Homo sapiens: one gene and its partner. The protein of the gene in region 1 interacts with the protein of each later gene in a pairwise test. Each region holds a gene or a part of one and is shown in the gene's direction. Other genes may lie near its edges. The genes, in order: SMTN and FILIP1L.

Region 1 (3,921 bases):
CACGTCTGACATGCAACAGGTGTTCAGCAAATGCTGGGGCCCTCGTCACGGGATGTTTACTCTTTCCTCGGCTGTAGCTGTAAACTTCCCTAGCACTGTACCGGACTGCCCTTTGATCTCTAGATCACCCCCACTCCCTTGCAGAGAGGAAGACAGAGGCAGGCGGGTATGTCTGGAGGTGGACCCAGGCACTAAGGGCTTGAAGGGGCAGGACCCACACATCCCTTCCATAGGGCCAAGGGCTAGTGAGCGCATGTGCCAGACAGTAAATCCAAGCATGGAGGAACTCACCTGTACCATTCCTCCTAGCCTACAGTAGGGCAGGGAGAAAGGAGGGCATTAGCACAAAGCAGGCCATTCATTGGAGCTGGTGACCGCCATTCAGGCAGGCCCTGAAAATCAGAGGTGGCCTAGGTGTGCCCTGCATGAAGGGGAGGTCCCAAGGGACGCGTGAATTTTGAAGTATTCAGAATTGGTCTTAGAGGGCGCCTGACCCTCGTTCTGGATAATAACATGGCATCTCGCCCAGGTAGAGAAAGCCTAGGACCTTGAAATATGTCCTCCGAAGTGAGCTCTGTTTGCCTCTCCTGCTGTGTAGCATTGACAAGTCGCTTTCTTCTGTGCCTTGATTTTCTTTTTTCTTTTTTTGAGACAGAATCTTGCTCTGTCGCTTAGGCTGGAGTGCAGTGGCACAATCTCGGCTCACTGCAACCTCTGCCTCCAGGTTCAAGTGATTCTACTGCCTCAGCCTCCCAAGTAGCTGGGATTACAGGTGCATGCCACTTGCCCGACTAATTTTTGTATTTTTAGTAGAGACGGGGTTTTTGCCGTGTTGGCCAGGCTGGTCTCGAACTCCTGACCTTGGGTGATCCACCTGCCTTGGCATCCCAAAGTGCTGGGATTACAGGCATGAGCCACCGCACCTGGCCCGTGCCTTGGTTTTCTGATGTGTAAAATGGGACCACTTCTCAGGGGTGTGGGGATGAAATGAAATGACACATGGAAAAGACTCTCAGTGTGGAGACTGGGCCTTTCCTTAGATGGGGGCTGGGGGGTGTCACAGAGGACCTGAACCGGGGCTCTTCTGGGTTAACAGGCTGAAACCACCTCCCCAGAATCCCACATTATAGTGGTTAAAAGCAGGGTCTGGACTCAGAAGGTGCTGGGTATGAATCACAGCTTTACTACTTATCAGCTGTTGTCCTCATCTGTAAAATGGGGCAATAGTCATGGTCTCATGTGCTTGTTATGGGCATTATATGCCTGGTACATGGCAAGTACAAAATAAATGATTTGTTATTGTTTTTATTTGACAGGACTCCAGACCCCATCCTCCCAACTCCACCCACTTTAGTCTCCATGGAGACCCAAGGGCGGCTTTAGGGCCTCTGGCACTGAAGATGGAATAGCTTTGCCTTGTGGATCTGACCTCCTGGGTACCCTGGCTGATTCCTTGTTTGGTCTTGGACATGTCAGCTCTCTCTGGGCCTCAATTTCCCCCTTTTGCTGAATGACAGCCTGGACTCCATATTCCCTATTTAGGACTCCAGCGCTCCTAAAGGCAGACTCTCAGGGCTTGGAAGGTAGAAGCATGCTACAAGAAGGCAATGTCTGTTCAAAGGTGTGTGGGCTGGGGGAGGCGTGCTGTGTGATTGATTCTGCTCCACCTGAGATGGTCCCGGCACTCCAACACAGGGTCAAGGTGCTGCCAGTCACTCAGTCCCTGCTCTGAGGTGGCTCAGACCAGGTGTCCCGAAAGCAGCCTAGGGACGGCGGCCAAGCTTAAACACTGACGCGAGAAAGGGGTGGAGTCGAGGGAGGGGACGTGGTCTCAGGAACAAAGAGGAGGGCGGAGAGGGGCTGTCCTGAAGGCTCTGAGACTCCTACGACCCCAGGAAACTTACCTCGGCTCGGGGCGCCCCCCCCGACTTGGCGCAGAGCCTGCGTCCCCCTGCCGATGCCCACCCGACTCGCTAAAGCCACCGAGGCAGACGACCCCAAGACTCCCAATTTCCGACCTCCCTGGCCCGCGAGGGGCGGGGCCTTCCTCTCGGGGCGTGGCCGTCAAATTGAATTTTCCCAATGGGGCACGAGAGTGGGAGGTACCCAATCGAGGGTTGGCTGGCGCGTCGGGGCAGGGCGGGGCCAGCCGGGCTGCTGGCGCGGCTGGACGGGCAGCTCTCCGCAGAATCCAGGGGACGGTTGCTGAGCGGGCCTGGGACAGCGGGTCGCGGCACCTCCGGCCTGCGCGTGTCTAATCCGTCTGTCGGGTCCCGAAAGAGCTAAGCCGAGCCTGCGCCGGACGGGTGGGCTGGACTGAGAGGTGGGTGTGCGGACCTCGGGGGGGATCCTGGTGCTGCCCCAACGTGTCCGGGGGTGGAACCCGGATGTCTAGACAGGAGTTCTGGAACGTCCAGACCTGGGAGCCCCCACCCATACGAGAGGTCTAAGCCATGGGATAAAGTTATGAGACTGTTGGGGGAAGACGCCCCCGGATTCCTAAGAGACTCCACGCCCCACAGGGGCGCTAGTCTGTGGCGGCAGAAACCCTGGGGAAGCTGCCACAGAATCCTGAGGCCCCTCACAATGTCCGGCGACCCCAGACTGTGTGACAGGGAGATTGGAGAAGAGCAGCGGCAGGGATCTTCTTATAATCCCATGGGTGTCCTAGATTAGGCATTAGGGTCAGCTGCCCCATAGAAGAACAGACATGGGGGGAATCAGAATGTCCGCAGAACCTAAGGCTGGTGACCACTGGACAGTCTTGAAGAGGTTTAACCCAGACAGAGTAACTAGGTAAGAGGCAAGGATCCTAACAGGCAGAGATTGGGAGGTTGACACCTCTGAGCCTACCAGGATGGGAGGGGGAACAAGCAGTGACTTGAACAGGCTGGGACCCACACACCCCAACTGTGTGGAGCGGTAACCCTCACCCCCCACCCATGCACCGTATGGGGTGACTTCCCAAGTGACTGTTCTGAAGAGAGGGAAGGGATGATTGAAAGATGAATCAACAGGAGGTGGGGGGCAGGCCTGGGGCCACACATTAGTCAGTCACCATACATTAACTAAGCATCCACAGTGTGCCAGACCAGGGCCCCTCAAATTCCAGACAGACATTAGTTGGGGCTACAGGAGGAAGGAGAGATCTGCGCTGGGAGGCTGGGCCAGGATTTAGGGGTCCATTTTGATGGGCAGCACTGGGGCAAGATGGGGCTCTTGCCTCTGTCACTGAGAGTGTTCCAGGCCCTTGAGGGCACTTTGGAAGGGAGCTTCGGAAGCCGGAGATGACGAAGATTTTGATTACATCCTTCTCTGCCCTCTAAGTCTTTGGCTTCCTCCTTGCTCAGTGACAAATCCTTGGCCCTCTCCAATCTTCTCAGTTTGCCTGAAATCCAGGGGTTGGGCAGGTCAGCTTCTGAAAGCCCTTCCAGGTGGGGAATTGAATTCTGTATGAATTGGCAGGAGGTGCTGGGTGCCTGGACACCTGGCTTCAGGAGGTCTGGACAGCAGAGCTGGCTCCAAGAATCGGAAGACACAGTGTACCTTCCTATACCTGGGGGAATGACAGTGGTGGTGGCAGCAAGAACTACGGGTTCAGCCCACAGCCAGAAGCTGAGCCTGCGGAGTGGGTGGGGGCTGGGTAGGCCCTGTGGATGGGTGGGTGGGGCAGGAAACTGGAGACTGGAGTGCACCCCCTGGTGGTAAGCACAGCTTGGGTGGGTCTTGCCAGGCCCTGGCTTCTCAATCCAGGTCCCTGCCCTCCCTGTTTTGAGGTTTAGACAGGATGAGAGTCCATCCCAGGCCACACAGCAGACTGGCGGCCAAGCTGGCAGGGCTGGAACCAGAGACCCCCTACCCTGGGTTTGGTGAGTTTTCCAGCAAACCACCCTAGGGCAGAGGGCAGCTTCCAGCCAGGAG
Region 2 (3,921 bases), on another chromosome or scaffold:
TTTTGGGAGGCCGAGGCAGGCAGATCACAAGGTCAAGATCAAGACCATCCTGGCCAACACTGTGAAATTCCACCTCTAGTAAAAATACAAAAATTAGCTGGGTGTGGTGGTGCGCGCCTGTAGTCCCAGCTACTTGGGAGGCTGAGGCAGGAGAATTGCTTGAACCCAGGAGGTGGAGGTTGCAGTGAGCCGAGATCGTGCCACTGCACTCTAGCCTGGGCGACAGTGTGAGATGCTGTCACAAAAAAAAAAAAAAAAAAAAAAAAGGCTTCAAGCTTCAGTTCCTTCCTCTGCAAAATAAATGAGTTAATCAAAGGAAGGCATTTAGAATGGGCTTGTATATGATAAGTAATGAATACATGTTAGCTACCATTATTACTATTATTTTCTTTCTCTAAATTGGAGTAGTTTTGCTTGGCTACCTCGATACCATATTAAATGACCAAGACCAAAAATGATTTCTTTTTTGAGGCTTTTCACTTACTTGATACAAGCAAAAATATCCTCTAGTCACATCCACAATTCTAAAACAAAAATGAGTAAGAAAATGAAGACTAAAAAGTATGTCTAAGTAGCACCTAACTATGTAGAGTAATTTTTAATATACAACATTAATAAAGAATGATTTTTAAAATTTAAATTTTATAATAAGTAATTGGCTGAGGGGCTGCTGGAGGAAGGTAATGAGTAGAATAGACTTCTATTTACATTTGGCCATTTCCTGCAAATAAATTAAGTAAATAATTACAAACTCTCTTCTAGTCCTCTTGCATGGACACATCCTTACCAAGATACACCATGATTTCAACTAACTTAAGCCCAAGTAAAACTGACTAAAGGAACTACATAGGAAAACAAAGCAGGATCTACTTCTCACTGCCAACTGCACTGTATTTGTATCCATAGATACAAGACAACAGAGAGTCCCAGAATTCTAAAGCGGGAAATCCCGGGACTTCAAAGATCATCCAGTCTCAGGTCCTAACCCTGCTATCACGGGATCCATCAGGGGGTGAGGAACAGGGTAGAGGTCAAAGGAAACAATCCTTGGTCCTTGTTCCAGCCTGAGTGATCTCATGGGACAACCTATCCCAGTATTCTCATTTTATAAGCAACAACACAGACCCTGGCTAATTAAAGGCAGAGCTGGGATCAGAGGCTGGGTTTCCTGATTCCCAGCCTACACTCCTGAAGGTTATCGTTCTAGGGTTATGACAGTCACAGATAACAACACATTAGGCTGTGTTAAACTGACAACTAAGCAGGTTTTTTTCCCTTGTAAACTCACTAGGTACTAGGTCAGCACTTCATGAAGAGTAAAGTATCATTATTTGGCATACACAAAAAGCAACTTTCCTTTTTTTTTTTTTGGTACCCTGAAAATCCCAAACCACTGTTGCTATTACAAAATTTTTCTTTACCCTAGTATGCACCCCTGGGCCAAGCACAGATGCATTAAAAATTTGCCAAGAGAAACAATGAAGTCACTGATAATACAAAGCATGAGAGTATCATGAAATTCATGTCTTTGTTTTCTTCCTCTAGATACTTAATTATTTCTCATTACTGATCATTTTGTGGTTATTGGCAGAGGGGCAAGGAAACTCCACCACTGTAAACATGTAGAGACACATGCTCCTCAGTAGACCAGAAGTCTGCATATGATGGGTCTGTTCACAAATCCAATGTGAACACCACTTCATTAATCAGTGAGAATGTTGATGCTACTATCCCCAGCCTCCAAAGAGAATTGGTGGTCTCAGTAAAACTCTAATCTCTTTAGAAGAATAACAAACACAGTATAAAAATGTTTCAGGTCATTCCTTTTTTTACCACTTATGAATATCATCACTGGCAAATGATCTATGTTCTCCTACCAGATTTCATCTAACCCACTTTAAGAGTGAGGTGAGGAAGCTAGAATGTATACAGAGCTCCATTCAGTCTTCTGTTGCAGCTCAGGGCTGCCTTAAGCTAAAAGGGCACTACTTATGAACAATGTTTAGCAAATTACCCTGCTAAATAAAAGCTTACATTATCTTGGTATTCTGGAAGGGATATCCTAGATTAAGTTGATGAGGGCAGAGAAATTCTCATTGATTAGCAGCAGGATACAAGTTGATTCTTATCAGTAGACTATTGTTCCACACAGGACTATGTGGGCAAGAGGAAAACATAGGAATTCATCATGTAAAATGAAAAAAACAAAAACCAAACCCTATGTACTTCCAGGAAATGAAAAGAAGTAAAGAACCAAATATATTTCGCTCCTCTTTTAAACTAGACTTTTATTAGATTTTCACAGAAATCTGAATCTGTGGGTGTGGTGAACTTTTTCAAAGATGGCTGCAGTTAATTCCTTCCATTCCTTTGCAATGTGGCCTTGTATCTTCTTCCATGTAGAGGTGTAATCTATTTCCTCAATCTTGAATCTGGGCTGACATTGTGACATTCTTTCACAAATGAGATGTTGGGAGCTTCAACTCTCACGTTCTTGGAATGTTATCCTGAGACCACCATGTGGGGAAGCCTGGTCTAGCTTCTTGTAAGTTGAGAGTCACATACAGCTGAGATGAGATGACCCGGCTGAGGCTCTCCTAGTCCAACTAACCAACAGCCAAATACGTGAGAGCCCGTCTTAGACCATCCAGGCCCAGAATAGCTGTAAGAAAGCTGAAGCTGTGGAGTAACCCACAGAATTCTGAGCCATTGTTATTTAGCCTCCATCCAAGTTTTGGGGTTGTTTGTTAAACACTAACATGTACCTGAGACAGTTGGGCACAAAGTAAAAGGAGCAAGCCAGTCACCCTAATGCATGCCCATTATGTATGGAGCACCAGGTCAGATACGCCATGTGAGACATGAATGAAGAATAAAATTGTCTTAAAAATATAAGACAAAGGACATAGATGGCCCTATAATTAATCTGTGAACATACCTATAAATAAAGCAGAATGTAATATTTACCTATATTAAATATATTTATGTAACAACCTTCCATTATTTCTATAGCCCAGAGTAAGGATATTCCTAGGTGTTCAAGAAAATACAATAGGGGTGGGGAAAGATAATTAGAAATCCTGTTTATGTATAATTTTTCATTTTTGTCTTTTTTGAATGTTTTTTATAAAGCACATAATATACTGTGGTAGTACATGAATATTTTTATAAATAAATAGATATACACACAATGAGGTTTTTCCCAATCTCATCTCTTACACATCCCCAACCTCCCATTCCTACACAAAAATATCCCTTCTATGCCTTTGCTTTTCTCAAATAAATGAGCCTTTCCCTGGCTACCTAGGGAAGAGCCAGTGACAACTACTGTCACACATCATTGTTCATCTATACCGTATTTGTAAATAGTCTCTTCAGTAAGGCTATAGGCATTTTTCGGACAAGGTATTTGTACCAGTGTATATATGCATTTGTCTTAGGCAATACAGCATAATGACATTACGGCATGATTTTTAAGAGTGTGGGTCCCTGAGCCAGGTTTCCTAGACTCAAATCCCAGTTTTGCCACTTATTAGCTGTGCAACCTTCAATAAGTTTCCCGTGCTTCCATTTGTTCACTGTAAAATGGAGATAATAATATTCCCTACCTCATAGTGTTGTTGTGAGACTTGAATGAGCTAATACATGGAAAATGCTGAGAAGAATGCTTAGCACACATAGTAAGTGCTCCCTCACTTCCAGATCAGGTCATTGGACCTGAAGAGGGTGAATGTCCTTTTTGTTTTGAGACAGAGTCTTACTCTGTCACCCAGGCTGGAGTGCCGGGCGCGATCTTGGCTCAATGCAACCTCGGCCTCCTGTGTTGAAGCAATTCCTGGGCTTCAGCCTCCTGAGTAGCTGGGATTACAGGTGTGTGCCACCACACCTGGCTAATTTTTTGTATTTTTAGCAGAGATGGGG

What was found.
Region 2: the proteins of SMTN (region 1) and FILIP1L interact in binary tests that used the Homo sapiens proteins (3 or more experiments, as listed by UniProt).

Annotation. Positions count from the first base shown.
Region 1 is NC_000022.11:31,079,134-31,083,054, forward strand, and holds the start of SMTN (smoothelin), read left to right. Parts: upstream 1-2,184; 5' UTR 2,185-2,323; intron 2,324-3,726; exon of another isoform or gene 3,727-3,782; coding exon of another isoform or gene 3,783-3,869; intron 3,870-3,921. UniProt on the Homo sapiens protein: Structural protein of the cytoskeleton.
Region 2 is NC_000003.12:99,932,715-99,936,635, reverse strand, and holds part of FILIP1L (filamin A-interacting protein 1-like), read left to right. Parts: intron 1-3,921.